2 separate regions of the Homo sapiens genome follow, and region 1 is reported to be linked to region 2. The links are microRNA targets in miRTarBase. Many come from high-throughput screens and were not tested one by one. Region 2 holds a microRNA gene; the other region holds the end of a gene's coding sequence. Distances are from middle to middle.
The links. Region 2 holds the annotated microRNA hsa-miR-3928-3p (GGAGGAACCUUGGAGCUUCGGC, at 4,793-4,814, shown strand). A microRNA usually pairs through its seed, bases 2 to 8, with sites in the 3' UTR of a target mRNA and lowers its output. Matches are read on the target gene's strand: a 7mer-m8 pairs with bases 2 to 8, a 7mer-A1 pairs with bases 2 to 7 and ends in A, and an 8mer does both.

Region 1: the mRNA of RASD2 is a reported target of hsa-miR-3928-3p. Seed matches in the 3' UTR shown: 8mer at 7,782-7,789 and 8mer at 7,342-7,349.

Annotation. Positions count from the first base shown.
Region 1 is chr22:35,549,766-35,560,460 of GRCh38, reverse strand. RASD2 (RASD family member 2) reads right to left here. Exons shown (of 3, transcript NM_014310.4): 3 at 6,462-8,958. The coding sequence ends at 8,429. Among named protein-coding and RNA genes, the nearest start is that of RASD2, 14 kb to the right of the region's middle. RefSeq lists an enhancer at 7,192-8,171.
Region 2 is chr22:31,154,181-31,164,875 of GRCh38, reverse strand. MIR3928 (microRNA 3928) reads left to right here and starts at 4,757; the gene lies at 4,757-4,814. RNF185 (ring finger protein 185) reads right to left here and starts at 4,694. Exons shown (of 7, transcript NM_152267.4): 1 at 4,573-4,694. It also overlaps the pseudogene SNRPNP2. RefSeq lists a silencer at 8,639-8,933.

The DNA.
Region 1 (10,695 bases), 4.4 Mb from region 2:
TGGGGCTGGAGGCTCCTGCACCACCGTGCCTGGCCTTCGGGCTGGATGCAGCTGGGACTGTGTCCTGAGCACCCCCACATGGCCTCTCCTCATGAAATGGGCTTCTCACAGCACAGCAGCTGGGTTCTTAGCAGGAGCATCCTGACAGTGACAGAACACCCTAAGAAAACCAGGCAGAGCTGTGTGACCTTTTCTGACCTGGCCCTAGAAGTCACAGAGCATTACTCCAGTGCACACCATTGGTCAAAGCAATCAGCATCTTGCCCTGATCAAGGGGAGGGGCATAGACTCCACCTCTTGATGGGAGGCACGCCAAAGAATGTAGGGGCTGTGTCTTAAAACCCGATATTGAACATGTGTCAAATGATCCTGATGACCGACGTCTGTACCCCATGTGACAAATCGCCAAGTGCTTTGGTGTCCACCTTGTGTGGTCCTCACTGAGAGTCCAGGATGAAGAAATGGAAGAGTCCATGCTGACCAGGGTGGGGGCCCCAGTGGGAATGCTGCTCACCCCCAGGTGCACCTGCAAGGAGCCTCAGTGACACAGAAATCATTATGGCTGGTGCTTATGATGTGCCAGGCACCATTCTAAATGTTTCACAAGTAATAAGTCATTTAGTTCTCATAACCATCCAGTGAGGTGGTGTGATTATTCCTATTTTACAAATGAGGACGCTGAGTCATGGAGAAGATACGGAGGAGCCACAGCCAGAACTAGGGTGAGGCAAGGGAGGCAATTACCTTAAGCACAATACTTCAGATGCCCCCTCACCCACAAAAACCCCCAGGAATCAAGGTGAATAATATTTTCATGTTTTTTATATATATATATATAATGCTACTGTTAATATTTATATATAATTATAATTTTTATTATATATTGTATTATATTTATATTAATTTATATTATAATTATAATTCTATTTATATATTATTGTAATTATTATTATTATTTATATATTATCATTATAAATTAATGATATTTAGTGCTATCATTAATATAGATAGATAGATAGATAGATAGATAGATAGATACAATTTTTTGAGACAGGGTCTCACTCTGTTGCCCAGGCTGGAGTGCAGTGGCATGACCATAGCTCACTGCAGCCTCAACCTCCTGAGTTCAAGTGATTCCCCCATCTCAGCCTCCCAAGTAGCTGGGACCACAGGCATGTGCCACCACACTTGGCTAAATTTTTGTGATTTTTGCAGAGATGGGGTTTCTCCATGTTGCCTAGGCTGGTCTTGAACCCCTGGCCTCAAGCCATCCTCCTGCCTTGGCCTCCCAAAGTGCTGGGTTTACAGGTGGGAGCCACGGTTCACAGACTTATGTAATATTTTTAAAATAAAAATTAATGCAAAAAATCCATAAGGAACAAAATGTCAAAAATTTAAATAAAGACAAGATCAGTATTGAGGTGATATTCAGCCCAGTCCACTCAAACTGCAATTGACCTAGGGACCTGTAAACCTAAGAAGAAATGCTTGTTGTTGAGAACTACTGAATTTTGGGGTGGTTTGTTACACAGCACTATTGCAGCAATAGCTGACCAATACAAAAAGTCATTTGCCTTTTAGCAGATGAGCAAATGGCAGACGTGAGATTTGAACTCAGGCAGCCTCAGACCAGAGACTACGTTATGAACAAGCCAAATGCTCTGCCTCTCTTACTGAGGGGCGCATTAAGGTGTGCACCCAGGATACCTGGGTTGGTTCAATCCTGAACTCTCTAACTCACTTTCCTGCTCAGGGTTCCTCTTCCTAGATGAGGTAGGGGTCCCTCTGTGAGTGCCATTCCCCAGACCCCTTTATCTGGTGGATGACCCTGGCTTCTTCATTTTGGCTGACACTTTAAGAAGGCTGACCTCAGATTCCAAAGTAAGGTATCAAACCAAGAGCAAAATTTTCAAAGCATTTGGCCAAGAACCAGCTCCTTGACTCTTGTACTTCTCAAGATATACAATAGTCAGCAGGAAGAAGATTTCCTGGGAAAGAGAATCACTGTTGAGCACTACAGTATGCTGTGACAGGGACTGCCCTTAGCTCAAGCCTAGAGAGCTGGACATGTGTCCCTGGGCAGAGTGGCTCTGTGGGCCACTGTCCTCTGCCTGATAAATCTCACATGTGACAGACTGGCTGGGTTAGATGCTAAAGATCCCAGTAAACTCAGAGCAACTTACACTCTTAGAGTTGATTGGGGTAGAGGGTGTGAGTTTCATATGCGCCAGATGTGGGCTGACCACAAGAGGAAGCTGGCATGGGGGTGCCTCAGGCCCTGTCCGATAGAACACCCCAAAGGGGCAAAAAGCCTCTGCACAGAGAATCAAAAGGCGTCAGAAGATTCCTTGGGGCTGCGGAGGGACTAAGCAACCAACCCAGGTTTCTTCTGTCTTCCGGTTCCTTCATCTCTAGGACCTTGTCACCATCTGCCTAGTTGAAGCCACTGCCACATTCAGGTTCAGCCGAAGGGATAGGGGAAGAGAGTGTGGAAGAGGTACACCCGGAAGATAGAGATGCATAGAAGCCTCTGCAGATAACAGGTTCCTAGTGATGGCAGGGAACAATCTCCAAAATAACCCCTGAGATTTTAATGGTATCATTAAACATTGGCCATGCTTGGAACGTGACACCATCTTCCCAAAGTGCCGTAGTAACTAGGCAAGGAAGAACTCCCTGCTCTTCTCCCTCCACCCCCTTCTCAGCCTCTTCTCCCTCCACCCCCAAACCCACCTCCCAAGAATGGAGAAGAGAGGAACCAGAAGTAGCTAAAGAGAGAGAAGGCAAGTGAGAAAAGTGAAGTATCCACCCTTCTCTTCCCAAGTCTCCAGCTTTTTATGTGCAATAGACCACCGCTGGGCGAGGGAGGGAAACTCTTTTGAATGAAGACTGGAAACTGATGATCACACTGGCCAAGGAATTTTAGTTGAGACTCTACTTACTACTTAAAATGTCTGTGGTATATTCTGTTTTCCAAGAGAGATGAGAAAAATCATGGGATAGTCTAAGTTTTCATCTGGGGATGGGGGTTGGATGTGAATAAGTTCTCAGAGCCAATTATTTTTATTTATTTATTTATTTATTTTTGAGACAGAGTTTCGCTGTTGTTGCCCAGGCTGGAGTGCAATGGTGTGATCTCGGCTCACTGCAACCTCCGTCTCCCGGGTTCAAGCTATTCTCCTGCCTCAGCCTCCCGAGTAGTTGGGATTACAGGCATGCGCCACCATGGTTGGTTAATTTTGTATTTTTAGTAGAGACGAGGTTTCTCCATGTTGGTCGGGCTGGGCTCGAACTCCCGACCTCAGGTGATCCGCCCGCCTCAGCCTCCCAAAGTGCTGGGATTACAGGCGTGAGCCACCTCACCCGGCCTGCTCAGAGCCAATTTAAAGCAGCCTTGGGAGCCTAGAGCTGCTTTCTGATTTCATCTGCTAAGTGGAGCTTGTTTGAAGTCAGACTGCCCGTGGTGTCCCGAGGCTGGCCCACTGCATTAGGGTGGCTGTTTGGAGACAACAGGCTGGCCAACCAGATCTCTCCTCCTCCTTTCCACAGTGGAGTCACCGCTGGGCATGGGGCCACCTAGCAAAGGACTGCATCTCTCAGGCCTTCTCATAGGTAGGTACAGTCACATGGCTGGGCTCTTGCCATTGCTAGAAAGTGGAAGTGATGAGTCCATGGCTCTGAAAACAGCAGGTGTACCTCTTCCACACTCTCTTCCCCTATCCCTTCGGCTGAACCTGAATGTTACAGTGGCTTCAACCGTGCAGATGGTGACAAGGTCCTAGAGATGGAAGAACCTGAAGACGGAAGAAACCTGGGTGCCTGAGTGACCAGGTGGAGCAGAGTGACTTTGCCATGAAAAAGAAGTTGGGTTCCTCTCTTGTGACAGCAGCTCAGCCTTTTATTGTGAACGGAAGAGCACCCCATTTTCTGAGTTCCCTGAACCACGTCCAGACACTGCACCCCAACTCACTGGACTCTCCCACTAGAGAGCAACCTCTCAGCTGGCTCAGTTATAAAAGCCCTGGAGACAAAAATGTGCTTTGGAATCAGACATGGTTTCTCATCCAGCTCTGCTCCTTCCTGGCTGTGCAACTTTGGACAAGTGACTTTACCTCTCTGAACTCCATTCTCTCTTATCCAAAAAAGGATTCCAGCTAGCTCTGCCATGAGGATTCAATGACAGGACGCAGGTAAAAGGCTCAGCACAGTGCTTGGCACAGAGTAAGGTCTTCGCAAAGGTCAGCTCCTTTTCCCTTCCCCCATTCCCGGCAGCCTTCACTGCCGAGCCCCTGGCAGGCCTCCCATCAGCCCCCACCAAACCGTGATGCAGACTGAAGTTTTTCTTTCGAGTAAGTGACAGGTTCAGGGAGGTGGAACAGAACAAGTACTTAGAGTTCACAGCGCAGAATTCTTTGAAATCATGTTCCCAATGCTCCCTTCCTAGGGTCGGGGGATTAGCCGGCTATCCTGGGCTTGGCTCTAAATGGTCTCACCATGAAGGGAATTTTCCTACAATCTTATCCTACCCACTGTCCCAGGGCTAAGAAGACATGTGTCTTTCTCCTCTGTGGCAGCCTGTTGCTGTCAACCCCATTCCAGGGCAAGGACTGTGGGATGCAGGGAACAAAGAGTGGGGCTAGAGCTGGGGCTGGGGCGAGCGTGTTCTGTTTGGTGATGATTGGAATGTTGTGAGTTATGCAATAGGAATATTAATTCCTTCTAGTAGAGACCATCAGGGCTGCGAGAGGCTGTTGGTGTGTATCTGGTCCGGATGCCTTCCTCCCGCCTCCCATTTACTCATGAAGAAAAGGAGGCCTGCGAGGGGACGAGACTTATTTCCAGACCCACATAGAGAAAGGGAGTGGCAGCAGCAGGCTGGGCTCCAGCGGGACACCGTGGAGGCCTGTCTCTGTGCACCAGCGCCCTTGTTATGGTTCAGCGCTGATGGCGATGCAGAAGGGAGTGTTCGCCTCCATGCTTTGTGTGTATGAAAACCAGGATCTAGAAAGTGTCCGAGGGACATGCCTCCCACACTGACCTTCTGTGGCTGGGGTGGGCAAAGGATTGGAGGGGAGCTGGGCTGCTAGATTATCAGAAGCTGGGAGACAGGCCCCAGGTAGGCAGAGGTTAGGAGCCGAGCCCCCAGGTAGGCAGGGACTAGAAGCAGGGTCCCCCAGGTAGGCAGAGGCTGAAAGCAGGGCCCCCAGATATGCAGAGGCTGGGAGCGGGCCCCCAGATATGCACAGGCTGGGAGCGGGGCCCCCAGGTAGGTAGAGGCTGGGAGTTCTCCAGCTCCCCACACTATGGACTTGTGTGGTCTCGCCTCCACCACAGCCTGGCTCTGTTTTGTGAATGTCTGTGCAGAGGTTGTGGCTTCCCAATGGACAATGTGGTTCCCAATGAACCTTACACTGCCTGTCTCTCGACCTCCTTTATGGCCTAGCTCCCTGATCCTGCTGGTGGCATTTGCTGATCAAAAGCACAGATGGTTTCCACCTCCCTGATGCAAAATCTTTCTTCAGCCAGACGGAAATCAGACAGCCTCTGGTGTTGAATCTCTGATCTGCCACTTCACCAGCTGTGCCATCTTGGACAAGATATTGAGCTCTCTGAGCCTAAATGCTCAGATGGGGTGAACATGAGTGGGCTTCCCTCGGGGCTGGGTGATAGGATGGCGTGAGACTCGCTGGGTAAAACACACAGGGAGTATTTTACCTCACTGACTTCCTCCTTTCCCTCTGCCCAGGGAAGCCTCTCAGTCCCAGGGGGCACATTCCGTGTTGGTCAGGGCCCAGACCTTCTCCCTCAGCCTCCACTTTCCATCCTCACCCACATCCTGTCTCACTTCACAGGAGTGCTCATGCTGTGGGTTCCGTCCAGAATGTGGTCCAACAAATCCATCACACGCAGGTGGGGGCGTGTCCCAGCCCCTGGGGTGAGTCTAAGTAAGGCTGCCCACGCTTGGCATTTGAGGCCAGATAATTCTCAGTGGGGTGGGGGTGGAGGGGCATCCTGTGCGTTGGAGGATACTGAATGGTGTCCCTGGCCTCCACCCACCAGATGAGAGTAGCAGCCCCAGCCCCAGGCTTGGAAAAGGTTTCCAGAGATTGCCAACTGTCCCCTGCGGGTGAAATTGCTGCTGTACAGGAATCACAAAGAACTCAGACACGGAGATCCTCCTGGAGCTAATGGTCCACGGGGGCCCCTTCTTTGTGGACACAGACACCTCGGTACACACACCCGGAGGACCCAGGAGGGCCAGGCTGAAGGAGGGCATCACCTTCCATCTGGGGGACTTATCCCCCTCTCCCCACACTTACACTTGAAGGTGGACTCAGTGCTGACCCTCAGGGCCAGGGCACACGGCAGGTGCATTTTGGGAGGGAAAGGCCAGCTTTGGTCTGGAAAGGGGCACACCTCCTCTTGGAAATACAAAAAATACACATGGGCAAGGACACGGCTTTGTAACAAACCCACTTTTATTGATAGTGTACACGGAGATCCATGGTGGCGGGGCTGTGCCTGGGTGAGAGCGGGCCACACACCGGTGCAGCCAAGGTACCTGGTCTGCTCAGAAGGCTCAGGCAGTGGGTGGGGAAGGGGACAGAGGCAGGGTTGGAGCTGCTGCTTTGAGCACAGACGCAGGCAGGGGCCAAGGCTGGGGTGCAGGTGCAGGTATGCAGAGCTGGGGCTGGAGCATGTGTACATCTGTGTGTACATCTGTGTGTACTTGTATATACATGGGCATGGTGTACACAATATCTACAGGGACCCTCACAGACTGATCTAGGGAGAGGGTTGAGGACAAGATGTCCCAAAGCCCTGAAGGCCCCAGGGGCCAAGCATCAAGAGAGGGAGCACATCGTGGTATGTACTGAATGCCCAGCGCTAGCTTGCTTCTGCCACCCACAGACTTGCTGTGTGACCTGGAGGAAGTTACTTACCCTCTCTGAACCTCAGAAAGACCCAATAGAAGATCACTAAGGTTCCTTAGGGCCCTAAAACTTCAATATGTTTAGAGAGATTAAAATACAAAATATACTTGTTAAGAGCTGATGACAAGGGCCTTTGGTTTATGGGTTCAAAACCCACCATGCCTGAGTACATGGTGGTACCCAGCATAGCCCAATCCCGGGCACAAGGAGAAGACCCGCCCTGAGCTTTTCTGTCGGATCCCTCCCAGGCTCAGTTCTGGGTCCCAGCTGCTCCTCCCCGCCTCCCCACCGCTGTGTGTGCAGAAGGTGGTGGGGCAGCAGGGGCGGGCAGAGGCCAGGACTGGGGACCCTCTTGGTTTCCTAGGACACAGTGAACCCAGCACCCAGTAGGTGCTTAATAAATGCTTGAGGAACGAGCACAGTAGAGGGCAGCCTGGTTCTAGGTGGAGCTGTACCCTGAATTTGCTAGGGGACAAAGGTGGGGCCTGGTGCTCATCGTGTCCCCTCCGAGTCTCGGTGGTATCCTCTGTGAAATGGGAGCATTAAAAAAAAGCAGTCCTGGCCTGCCCACCCCACGCTTGTGCAATTGTCTGTAAACCGTGGAGCTCAATGGCGGAGGTCAATGTCTAGCTGCAAACAGGCCACGGAAACCCTGTTTGGGAGCAGAGGAGGAAGGCGTCCCGGGTGGAGGCCGTGGATCTGAACTGGGTGAGGGCCTGGCCAAGGAGGGAGTCACTAGGCTTTTACAGTACAATGATTTCCATTTCTACTACTATACATGACACGAAAACAGCTGCAACCACAACAAAGCACAACTGTCGGGCGGAGGGACCTAGGAGAGGAGGCTGAGGAACGCGGTCAGGAGGTGGGCGTGGTCTAAGTGGTGGGCGTGGTCTAGGAGGTGTGGCCACGCCCCCTTCAGACACAGAGTCCACTGGCTCAATGTCAGGCGCAGCTGGGGGCCAACTTGTGTGTGTGCTGGGGGTGGGAGGGGGTGCAGAGGCAGCTGAACCAGAGCGTAAGAGTTGCAGGGCTGGGAGAGAAGTTCTCCCAGCTGCCACCCAAACCAAGCTGGGTGTTATGCCAGGAGAGAGGAGACCTTTCTCATCTGGCCTTCTGTGTCCTTTTCATCCTGAGGCTTGTCCCAGGAGGCTCCATATGACGCAGCAATCCTCACCCCTCTGGCATCAACATTTCTTCCAACCCCAGGAGAGGAAGGTGTAACTTGAGTCTCTGCCTAACTCTTGAGGCTGCAGAGATGTGTCCTCCCACAGAGGAGATGAAACCACCAAGGAGCTGTGGACAAGCGGACTCAGGAAAGCTGTGAGAAGGCAGACGAATGTGCGGAGGCCAGCGCCCGGGGGCCTCCAGTCTGGTGCCTAAGGTCTGTGAACAAGACTGCTGCCGGGGCCTCGGTGGGGAGATGCGCACAGTGGGCATCTGGGGCCACCTCCCTGAAGGCACTGGCCAAGCCCCGCCCCAGCATCCCTCGCTCACTGGATGGTGCACTTGTCCCTCTCACGGGCCTGGCCTTCCCGAAGGACCTTGGCCTTGATGTACTTGAGGTCACTGTTGACGCTGGGGCGGCGGGCGAAGGGCGAGACCATGCCATAGGCGTCCATCTCCTTGACGCGGCGCATGCAGAAGGGCCTGGGGTGGAAGGCGTCACCGTACTGCACGGAGATCTTGCGATGCAGGGCGGGGCTCATCTCGTGTGGCAGCTTGGCCATGCTGAAGAGCACGTAGAACATCTCGTCCACGTTGGTGTTCTTCTTGGCCGACACCTCGAAGTAGGCGCAGTTCTCGTCGCCCGACACCAGCAGCTCGGCCTCGGTGGTGGGCACCTGGCGGCACAGCTCGCCGTGGTCGTTCTTGTTGCCACAGATGACCATGGGCAGCTCCGCCGCCTCCTTGGTCTTGTTCTTCAGGCAGGACTTGACCTCCAGGATCTGCTTCTGAAGGCGCTTGACCTCATCGAAGGACTCCCGGTTATCCAGGCTGAACACCAGGATGAAGACATCCCCTGCAGGGAGAGAGCCCAGGTAGTGAGTTCACCGGCCAGCTGCAACCCCTGCCCTCCTCTGGCCACAGAACATCAGCCCTAAGAGCTGGGAGTCACAGGTGCCCTGAAGCAGTTATGCGGCATAACTGCTTTAACCTACACAGCGACTCTTCGGGGTAGCTGCGATTATTCTCCCTGCGATTATTTTCCAGGACAGGAAACTGAGGCTGAGGGGGTTGAAGCCCCTGTTCACAGTCGCATAGCTAACACGTGGACCACTTGGTTCAAATACAGTTAACTCACTTCACATTTCTTTGCAGGGCTGGAGAGGGGTAGGTCACTTGTGTGGACTGTGTTCAGATAATAATAAAAATCATTTCTATGAGAGCAGGGGTCCTGCCTGTCTTGCTCAATGCCTAGTTTGCATCTGGCCTCATCCGCTTAGCTGCCAGCAGACTTGGGCAGATCACGAAACCTCTGTAACCTCAGTTTCTCTGTCTGTTTCATGAAGATGAAATATTACCTTGCAGGATGATTTTGGGAGTTATGCAAGATAATGAATGGACAGTGGCACATGCTCAGTGACCTCAGGTGTCAGTAATGATGAGAGTGAGGGCCTACTGGGGGCTAAGCACTGGGTGTATGCTCCAGGCCCGTTGTTCTCTTGATTCCTCACTATGCCTCTGTCAAGATTTTGTTACCTTTGCATTACAGGTGAGCAAACTGAGGCTCAGAAAGGGTATGCAGCCTGCCCAAGATCACACAGCTTCCGTGTGGCTAGGCTGAGATTTCTACCTGATTCTGTTCTCACCTAGCTCGTGCCTGGCACCCGGTAGGTGCTCTCTGCTTCTCAAATAAATCATAGGATGAAAAAGTGAGTGCTGGCCTCCAAGGCCCACACTGCCTCCAGGATAACTCACTGCATCACTCAAGGCAGGCTTGTGAATCTGAAACAGGGGCTGCTGTGGAGACGGTGGGGTGGTGGGGAGGCTGTCTGGACTGGTACCTCCATCCTGATTTCCAGCTTTTAATAAGCACCTTCCTCACTTTTGCTTAAACTTTTTTTTTTTTTTTTTTTTTTTTGAGATGGAGTCTTTCTCTGTGGCCCAGGCTGGAGTGCAGTGGTGTGATCTTGGCTCACTGCAACTTCCACCTCCTGGGTTTAAGCGATTCTCCTGCCTCAGCCTCTGGAGCAGCTGGGATTACAGGCGCCTGTCACCATGCCTAGCTATTTTTTATTTATTTATTTATTTATTTTCTGAGACAGAGTTTCACTCTTGTTGCCCAGCCTGGAATGCAATGGCAAGATCTCAGCTCACTGCAACCTCCACCTCCTGGGTTCAAGAGATTCTCCTGCCTCAGCCTCCCGAGTAACTGGGATTACAGGTGCCCATCACCACACCTGGCTAATTTTTTGTATTTTTTAGTAGAGACGGTGTTTCACTGTGTTAGCCAGGCTGGTCTTGAACTCCTGACCTCAAGAGATCTGCCCACCTCGGCCTCCCAAAGAGCTGGGATTACAGGCATGAGCCACTGCGTCCAACCACTTTTGCTCAAACTCTTGATAGCCTTGTGGTGTGACAAGATCCCTGTCTCACAGATGAGGAAACTGAGGCCCAGAGGAATCAGCAATTGGCCCAAATTCTTGAGAAGAGAAGCAACCAGTTCCAGCTTCTGGCAGAATGGCTGCCACCTTCCTCTGCACCCCCAGAGCACATCATTTACCCCCATTTAATGGCACATGGCACATTCAGAATG
Region 2 (10,695 bases):
GTGGTGGCACACCTGTAATCCCAGAACTTTGGGAGGCCGAGGCAGGTGGATCACCTGAGGTTGGGACTTCAAGACCAGCCTGCCCAACATGGTGAAACCCCACTCTACTAAAAATACAAAAAACAGCTGGGCATGGTGGCACACGCCTGTAATTGCAGCTATTCAGGAGGCTGAGGCAGGAGAATCGCTTGAACCCGGGAGGGGGGTTGCAGTTAGCTGAGATCATGCCACTGTATTCCAGCCTGGGTGACAGGGTGAGACTCCGTCTCAAAAAAAAAAAAAAAAAAAAAAAGACAATGAGGAACTGTCCCAGATATCTGATGAGACCAGGGAGACTTGACAACTAAATGTGATGTAGGATCCAGGATTGGGTCCTGGAACAGAAAAAGGACACAGTGGGACAAATAGCAAAATCTGAATAAAGTCTCTAGATTAGCTAGTAATATTGTATTAATGTTAAATTTCTTGTTTGGATAATTCTGATATAATTATGTACAGTTTTGACATTAGGTGAAGTTAGATGACAGATATACAGAAAGTTTGTGAATTATTTTTGCAAGTTTAGTATAAGAGTAAAATTATTTCAAAATAAAAAGGCCAGGCGCAGTGGCTCACGGCTGTAATCCCAGCACTTTGGGATGCCAAGGCGGGTGGATCACCTGAGGTCAGGAGTTCAGGACCAGCCTGGCCAACACGGTGAAACCCACCTCTACTAAAAATACAAAAATTGGCCAGGTGTGGTGGCACATGCCTGTAATCCCAGCTACTTGGGAGGCTGGGGCAGGAGAATCGCTTGAACCTGGGAGGCACAGGTTGCAGTGAGCTGAGACTGTCCCACCGCATTCCAGCCTGGGCAACAAGAGTGAAACTCCATCTAAAAAATAATAATAATAATAATAAGGGGCCAGGCACGGTGGCTCAAGCCTGTAATCCCAGCACTTTGGGAAGCTGAGGTGGGTGGATCACTTGAGGTCAGGAGATTGAGACCATCCTGGCCAACATGGTGAAACCCCGTCTCCACTAAAAATACAAAAATTAGCCAGGCAAGGTGGCGTGCACCTGTAGTCCCAGCTACTCAGAAGGCTGAGGCAGGAGAATTGCTTGAGCCCGGGAGGTGGAGGTTACAGTGAGCCGAGATTGCGCCACTGCACTCCAGCCTGGAGGACAGAGTGAGACTCCGTTTCAAATAAATAAATAAATAAATAAATAAATAAATAAAATAAAATAAAAAGTTAAAAAACAATACATGGCTGGGAGTGGTGGCTCATACCTGTAATCCTAGCACTTTGAGAGGCTGAGGCAGGAGAATCATTTGAGCTCGGAGATTTGAGACCAGCCTGGGCAACATAGTGAGACCTCATCTCTACAAGAAACCTAAAAGTTAGCTGGGTGTGGTGGTGTGTGCCCGTAGTCCCAACTACTCGGGTGGCTGAGGTGGGAAGATGGCTTCAGCCCAGGAGGTCAAGGCTGTAGTAGGCTATGTTCGTGCCACTGCACTCCAGCCTGGGCAACAGAGCGAGTCACTGTCTCAAAAAAAAAAAATGTACACGATGCAGGTCAGGAATTGGCAATTTTTTTTCCATAAAGGGCCATAGAGTAAATACTTCAGACTCTGTGGACCATATGGTTTTTATGGGAAGTAATCAACTCCACTGAGTAGCATTAAAGCACCCAAAGACAATATGTAAATATATATGAATATAAATAAATGGGTGTGACTGAAATGAACACTGAAATTTTATCTTCCTGTAATTGTCACCTATGTAATATTATTCTTCTTTTATTTCCCATCATTTAAAAATGTAAAAAGCAGGCCAGACGTGGTGGCTCACGCCTGTAATCCCAGCACCTTGGGAGGCTGAGGCGGGCAGATCACGAGGTCAGGAGATCAAGACCATCCTGGCTAACACAGTGAAACCCTACCTCTACTAAAAATACAAAAAATTAGCCAGTCATCGGGGTGGGCGCCTGTAGTCCCAGCTATTCGGGAGGCTGAGGCAGGAGAATGGCATGAACCCAGGAGGCGGAGCTTGCAGTGAGCTGAGATGGAGCCACTGCATTCCAGCCTGGGCAACAGAGCGAGACTCCGTCTTAAAAAAAAAAAAAAAAGAAAGAAAAATGTAAAAAGCACCCTTAGCTCACAGACCATATAAACAAGCAGTAGGTCCAGGTTTGGTTCACAGCCTATATATAGTATGCAGATCCCCACTCTAGGTCAGAATTTGCTAACGTGTGCTTCAATTAAAAAAAAAAAAAAGATTTGACATCAAGTAGATTAAACAAATGGAACAAGTTATTATCTTGGCTTATAAGGCACATTTCCTTATTGCAGGACCTCTCAGTGGTTTTAATGTGGTATTACACATTGAGAAGCTCCAAGAAAGAATAATGGTATGTGGCTTTCTCAAACTTATTATTAGCATCAAATCCTTTTTTCAGAGCCACTTCTTCAGACCAGTGGCCTGAAGAACATACTTATGAGAATGTCAATTCAGACACTTCTTTAAAAGGAAACTTTTAGATCGAGAAGTTCTAAAAACTCCAACAAATTAAGATCATTTTACCCAGTACCTGGATAACATCTGAATAAGCATTTCACAACTTTTTTATTTTTTAATCTTGGGAAACACAAGTCGATAACTGGCAGGAAGTTTTGGCTCAACCCTAACTTTTGTGGCGGCGGGGGAGCAAGTCAGCAGAACTGGGTCATAATATGGAGCCTCTGCTCCCTAAGACAACATAAACATTCCTAAGCATTCTAGCAGGTGTTGAAAAAGTGATTTAGGCAGAGCTTTGTAATGCACAAAATAAGGACATAATAATGTTTGATTAGAAAACCAAAGGTATGCTAGAGGCCAGGCACAGTGGCTTACACCTGAAATCCCAGCACTTTGGGAGGCTGAGGCAGGCGGATCACTTGAGGTCAGGAGTTCGAGACCAGCCTGGCCAACATGGTGAAACCCCATCTCTACTAAATACTCAAAAAAAAAAAAAAAAAAGCTGGAACTTGTCATGTGTGTGAACTGGCAAGTCAAGTCTATAAGAGGACTGTTTTTATATGATGCATGGAAAGCTAGCCAACAGACTGCAAAAATTCTCTCACATCTATACACATATTGCTGAAGAGAGGATTCAAGCAGGGATTATGTTCCAGGGAAGAGAAGGCTGGTCTGAACAACCTCAAGGGGTGCTTTCAACTGAGAGTCCTCAATTTTGTGATTCAGAGTTCACTGGCTTCTCCTGGTCAAACATAAAATCTTCAGAGGCATTTCCAACTTGTTCTTAGAAAAAAGCTACTAACCCATGGGGTGGGACCCAGTTTACTTATTCATTCAATAAACATTTAAGGTGCCTCTATCAGATATTGGGTCATTCCAAAGTCCTTGAAAAGAAGGATGGTGCACAGGACAACCAGGAAGAGATTATGTAAGGTCAGATGCATTGGCCTTATTTACAGGAGATGTAGGCTAAAGTGATGGAAGTGTCAAAAGAGAAGAAAAAAGTCACATTTGCCTTGAGAGCAGAGTCAGCACCAGAAAGATGCAGAACAACTCCTTGGAATCACAGACTTTCAAGTTGGAAAGGACCTTCATCTAATACCTATATACCTCCCTCGAAAGGAGGCACGGAGGCAATCCATTCACTCCATCGGTGGTCACCTCTGACGATTCTTCCATTTAAGTTCTTCTATTAAGCAAAAATCTTGCCTTCCTGTAGAATTCACCTGTTAGTCCTAGTTCTGCCTCTTTTAGCCTAAAGATGAAGTGGAAGCCCTCTTTGCCGTAACAGTATTTTCAATTTTTAAAAAGTTAATTCCCTTCCAGTGCTCTCTTTACTGAGCTAACCATTCCAGTTCTTTCAAAGTTCCTGAACTGGCACCAGCTGCCTCAAAGCGAAGAATGGATATCTAGTGCTCACAGCAGGAAAGCACTTAAAATCAATGAGCTTCAAACATTAGTATATACAGGACCCCCCTACGCATAAGTTCAGATTCTAAACCAGAAGTCTGAATTGAGTCCCGCGCTGTAAAGCCGGCATCTCAGAGAATTACAAAGCAGATGGTGTAAGAACCATATTTTGAAAAACACTGCCCCGTTTTAGAGACGAGAAAACTGAGGCCCAGCACAGGGAAGAGATTTGGCCCAGAACGCACAATTGTCTGTCGGTGGCGAAGTCTCGAATCCAGGTCTCTTACTTTCAGCCCAACTCTGTTCACCGCGCTCCCCGGCCTCTGCTTCTCCACTCAGGGCAAACTCGTGAAATGCACTCCCAGATGATAGAGGCGGTCTCGCACGGGGGATAGAATGGGAATCAGTGCCCATGCCTCGAAAGGAGAGCTTGTGGGAGCCCTTCTCTTTCGCAAGGCCTCAGTTTCCCCAATCTGTATTCATGGGACGCAGAACCACAACGCCAGCTCGTCCTCTTTTCGGGGACAGACACGACCGGTCTTGCTGTCTCTGGGCCCCTGGGCTCAGATGTTCAAGCCCGTGTGTCCTGGGAAGGCGGACCCGGGTCTCCCGCCCCCGTCCCTAAACTTTGGCGCCCCCGCCCCAACCCCAGCCCCTCACATACCTGCCTCCGCACAGTTAACGCCAGCCCAGTCAATCAGTTTTTCGGGTACACGGCCAATACTAACGCCGCGTCAATCTGTTGGGTAAGACCTCCGACCCCTCCTACGCGGACTCCAGTCACATGACGCGGAGCCGCCCCTCTCGGAGGGACTTCCGGCCCCAACCGGAAGAGGTTAATTTCCATGGCTGAAGCTCTAAGGTTCCGCCTGCGGGCAGGAAGCGGAGGAACCTTGGAGCTTCGGCAGCTTTTCAAAGAGCTTTGGGTTCGGGGCTCCTAAAAGAAAAAAACTGATTCCGGCCGGGCGCGGTGGCTCCCACCTGTAATTCCAGCAGTTTGGGAGGCCGCGGCGGATGGATCACTTGAGGTCAGGAGTTCGAGACCAGCCTGGCCAAAATGGTGAAACCCCTCTGTACTCAAAATACAAAAAGTAGCCGGTCGTGGTGGCGCACACCTGTAATCCCAGCTACTCGGGAGGCTGAGGCAGGATAATCGCTTGAACCCGGGAGGCGGAGGTTGCAGTGAGCTGAGATCGCACCACTGCACTCTAGCCTGGGCGTCAGAGTGAGACTCCGTCAAAAAAAAAAAAAAAAAAGAGAGAGAGAAAGAACTAACTCATTCCGGAAAGTACCAGATAAACTTGGAACATCTTGTTACACCAGAATATAAGGATGATGGTAATAAGAATCATGGGAATGTGTCAAAGAACACAGGAGCTGTCTTTAAGGAGATCTTACTGGCCAAGTCAGGGCAATTTCAGAATCAAAATATGGAGTGATAGTAATAGAGTATAACTAATTGAATAAAATAGTAATCCATGAGTCTTTACAAACATAAAGAAGTGAGCATATTAATGGGTGAAGGGAAAGTCTTCCTTTTAGTAGAATGCTAGCTAATAAACATGGTGGAATTAGGAAATCAATAATGTGTGGTAAAACTAGAGAAACGGGATGTTTACAACAGCAAAAGTGTCTCCCATAAATTAGCTATTGATTACAAAGGGAAAATGGTGATGTTACAGAGGTTTAACCTAGCAGAACAAACAGATCAAAGTGATCAAAGTTAACACCACTAGTTAATGGGTCAGATCAAGGGCCTCCTAATAAAATGCACTGAGAACACATCTGTGGTATTTCTGTCAAAAGTGCACCGTACACATCTCATGAGGAAGTGCTAGAGAACCCCAAATGAAGGACACTGTCTACAAAATAACTCATTGTCATGAAAAACAGAGAAAAGCTGAGGAACTGTTCCAGTTTAAAGGAGACTAAAGAAGCATGACAACAAAATGTGGTGTGTGATTCTAAATAGGACCCTGGACTGGGGTAGTGGTGGTGGTGGAATAGTTGTAATGGACAATATTGGGACAAGTAATGAAATTTGAATATGGATTGTGGATTAGCTGTTAATACATATTGTATCAAATCACATACTGATAGGTGATGGAGCTTGTGATTTGCACTCAAGCAGTCATTGGAGTTCTTGACAGCCATCTTCATTCATTCAACAAGCATTTATTAAGTACCTACAGTTATCCCAGGAACGGTTAGGGATCGGACCTGAGTAGGAGGTGAACATAGTAGATAAAGGCCGGCGCGGTGGCTCACGCCTATAATACCAGCACTTTGGGAGGTCGAGGCAGGCAGATCACCTGAGGTTAGGAGTTCGAGACCAGCCTGGCCAACATGGTGAAACTCATCTCTACTAAAAATACAAAAATTAGCCAGGCGTGGTGGCGGGCACCTGTAATCCCGGCTACTTGGGAGGCTGAGGCTGGAGAATTGCCTGAACCCAGGAGACAGAGGTTATAGTGAGCCAAGATCGTGCCATTGCACTCCAGCCTGGGCGACAAGAGTGAAACTCCATCTCAGAAAAAAAAATAAAAAATAGTAGATGAAATAAGCTCATAGATGAAAGTCCTAGTCTGCCAGCCACCTTTGCAAGTTCCTGTGATCAAGAAGTAATACAAGGGATGTTTCCAGTCACACAAACCTGGATTTGAAACCAAGCGCTAAGAGAAAAACAGCCCCTGACATCCAGGAGATGGTCTGGCACTCACAAATAGACCTTGGTGTGTTCTCTTATTGAACATAAAAACTTCACAGAACATCAACATCAAACAAAGCCACTATGTGACCATGATGGATCAAGACAATAACAAAACCACTTGAATCATGTCTAAACCCAGACAAAACATGAGCATTGTTCGAACTACAAAAATGGCCAAACATTTCCCTATTCTGGCTTGTATAGAGATTATAGATTTAGCCTCGGTCTACTCTTCCCTCCTTCTAAATAATGTTTATCAAGGTACTCACTCATAGGCAGCATCCAATCCAGAAAACCCCATTTTCTTAAGCCCTCGTCCAAATCACCTAATGCAAGCCCAAATCCTATGTGTCCTTTGTAACACTTTGTTACTGAGATGCCCCTTTGTTTGTTTGTTTGTTTGTTTGTTTGTTTTTGAGACAGAGTATCACTCTATCACTCAGGCTGGAGTGCAGTGGTGTGATCTCGGCTCACTGCAGCCTCTGCCTCCTGGGTTCAAGTGATTCTTCTGCCTCAGCCTCCCAAGTAGCTGGGATTACAGGCGCCCACCATCACTCCCGGCTAATTTTTGTATTTTTAGTAGGGACAGGGTTTCACCATGTTGGCCAGGCTGGTCTCGAACTCCTGACCTAAGGTGTTCCTCCCACCTTGGGCTTCTACAGTGCTGGGATTACAGATGTGAACCACCAAGCCCAGCTGCCCTATTGTTTCTCATGATTCATGTCCTCTCACCCTTACCCCATAACAAGTGATAAACTCAACTTGTTTAACCACAGGTGTGTTCCAATTTCTTCCTTCCTCAAAAAGTTGTTATGAGGATACTCGGAACAGGTTCATCACAGAGTGAGCTTTCTCTATCAATCGATCCATTATCTATTTTTTATTTTTTTAAAAAAACATGGTCTCAGCCTGTGGTCCAGACTGGAGTGCAGTGGCACACCATCCTAACTCACTGCAGGCTTCAACTCCTGGGCTCAAGTGATCCTCCCACCTCAGTCTCCTGAATAACTGTGACTACAGGCACGCACCACACCCAGCTAATATTTTTTATTTTTCTGTAGAGACAGGGTCCTGCTGTTGCCCAAGCTGGTCTCAAACTCCTGGCCTCAAGGGATCCTCCCAGTTTGGTCTCCCAAAGTGTTGGGATTACAGGCATGAGCCACCTCACCCAATGCTTTCAATATACTTTTAAAAATTATACATATATTTTTGAGACAGCACCTCACTCTGTCACTCAGATTGGAGTACAGTGATGCCATCTTGACTCACCTCAACCTCCGCCTCCCTAGCTCAAGCGATTCTCCTGTCTCAGCCTCCTGAGTATCTGGGATTACAGGTGCATGCCACTACCACCCAGCTAATTTTTGTATTTTTAGTAGAGATGGGATTTCACCATGTTGGCCAGGCTGCTCTCGAACTCCTGACTTCAGGTGATTTGCCCTCCTCAGCCTCCCAAAGTGTTGGGATTACAGGCGTGAGCCACCACGTTTCCCCCTCAGCTTGCATTGTTTCTGGGAGAACCTGCACCATACCTTTATCTATAGCTTTCCCCCAGGTCTTAAGAAGCACGAAGTTTTAACTGTGGACACGGGATTTGGTGAAGCAGCAATCACGACTGTGGGCACGAGTAGCAAGGCTGCAGCAGCACATTGACTATAGAATGAAATGCATCCTACAGGAAGGCACAATCTTCTTTGGCATCTTTAAGGCGTTTGACAAGCATGTGAATTTGATCCTCTGCGATTGTGATGAGTTCAGAAAGATCAAGCCAAAGAACGTGAAGCAACCAGAGCTCGAAGAAAAGCACTTTTGGGGTCTGGTGTTGCTGCATGGGGAGAACTTGGTATCCATGACTGTGGAGGGGCTACCCCCAAAATATACTGGCATTGCTCGGGTACCACTTGCTGGAGCTGCAGGAGGCCCTGGAGTTGTTAGGGCAGCTGGTAGAGGAGTATCAGCTGGTGTACCAATTCCCCAGGCTCCTGGTGGATTAGCAGGCCCCGTCCCAGGAGTTGGGGGACCATCCCAGCAGGTAATGACTCCACAGAGAAGAGCATTACTGGAGCCCCAACACAGTACCCACCAGGACCGGGGGCTCCACCCCCACCTGTTGGCAGAGCAGCCCCACCTCTAGGCATTATGTTTCCTCCACCTGGTATGAAACCACCCATGGGCCCACCAATTGGGCTTCCCCTTGCTAGAGGGACGCCAGTAGGCATGCCCCCTCCAGGAATGAGACCCTTTCCACCAGGAATGCATCCACCAAGACCCTGGGATATTGCTGATCCATCTCAGTCACTTTTCCCCCTGCAATGCATCTTGTGAAATTGTATAGTGTTTGTGAGCTTTTTGTCCCTTCTTTCTGCGTTAATCATAGCTAATAATAAATGCCTAAAGCAATTAAACTGTGGGAAAAAAGATATTGAAGCCATCAGCTTTCATTAAGATAAACTCCCTGATTATATTCCTCTTTGCTCTTTTTGTTGGGTTCATAAGGTGGAAAAAATGGAGAGAGTTCAACTTTTCCTTAGTCGGAAATGAGGTCATTCTCATGGTATTTTCTGGAAAGCAATAACCACGTTCCTGAAACTTTAACATTAGGGAACCAGCACTGTTTATTTCTTCATGTTCTTGTTATTAAAAACGTTCCCAAGAAGTAGCAGAATTGGAACTACCAAACTTGGAAGCACTTCAGCTTCAAAAATATATCAAGTAATATCTTCTCTGCTTTAGCACACTAAGGCACTTATAATCCCTGGAAGCCCTGTTGGTGATGTTGGCATTTATCCTGCTGGAACCCAGCATAGATTTAATATTATTTGATGCCTACAACATTGTGCTGAATAAAAAATATTCATTCCGGTGGGAAATAATTTTAAAAATATAAATTTTCTGATTTCTTCCTCTGCTTGCTCCCAAGTCCCCCTGCCCCCTCCCCTTCTTTGCCCTTACTCCTTTAATAATAATAATAGCAGTAGCTAACATTTATTGAATGTTTATAAAGTGCTGCATACTGTGCTAAGGGCTTTATGCAATTTAACCCTCACCCCAGGATTGTGAAGGAAGTCTTACTACAGATGAGAGGCTAGAGGACCAGAGAAGTTAAGCAACATGCCCAAGACTACACAGCTGGTAAGAATCAGGCCCAAAATTGGAATCCGCCCTCAAAACCTGCTCCTGTTGAAATGTTGCTTCACCACCCTGGCACAGAGAGTAGGGTCTGTGAAGGGATGGAAGGAGTGATAGACTGGCAAGGAAGGAAGGGCTTGGGGTAGTGGGTGGGGTGGGTGGGAGTGGAAGACCATGCAGAGGCATTTAGACCCTCTCCAGAGGGCAGAGGGAAGGGATGGAGATTAGGAACACAACACAAATAGGAGGCCCCTGTAGAACCTCAGGGGGAGCCATGAGTTTGGGGGACCAGGAAGGTTGAAGAGTGGGTAAATTAGGCCAGGCGCGGTAGCTCATCATGCCTGTAATCCCAGCACTTTGGGAGGCTGAGGCGGGCGGATGACCTGAGGTCAGGAGTTCGAGACCAGCTCAGCTAACATGGTGAAACCCTGTCTCTACTACAAATACAAAAATTAGCTGGGCATGGTGGTGGGTGCCTGCAATCCCAGCTACTTGGGAGGTTGAGGTAGGAGAATCATTTGAACTGGGGAGGCGGAGGTTGCAGTGAGCCGAGATCACACCATTGCACTCCAGCCGGGGCGACAAGAGTGAAATTCTGTCTCAAAAAAACAAAACAAAAACAAAAACAAAAAACAAAAAACAACAACCAAAGAGTGGGTAAATTATAAGGTGGGAGAAGGGCATGATTAAGGACCTGGGCCACAGGTGTTTACTTGCCAAGTGAGGAGAGGCAAGAAGTCTGGGGGACCTTCTGGCCCACTTGATTTTTTTTTTTTTTTTTAACAGAGTCTCCCTCTGTCACCCAGGCTGGAGTGCGGTGGCACAATCTTGGCTCATTGCAACCTCTGCCTCCTGGGTTCAAGCGATTTTTCATGCCTCGGCCTCCCGAGTAGCTGGAAGCAGGCAGGCACTCACCACTACACCCGGCTAATTTTTTGTCTTTTTAGT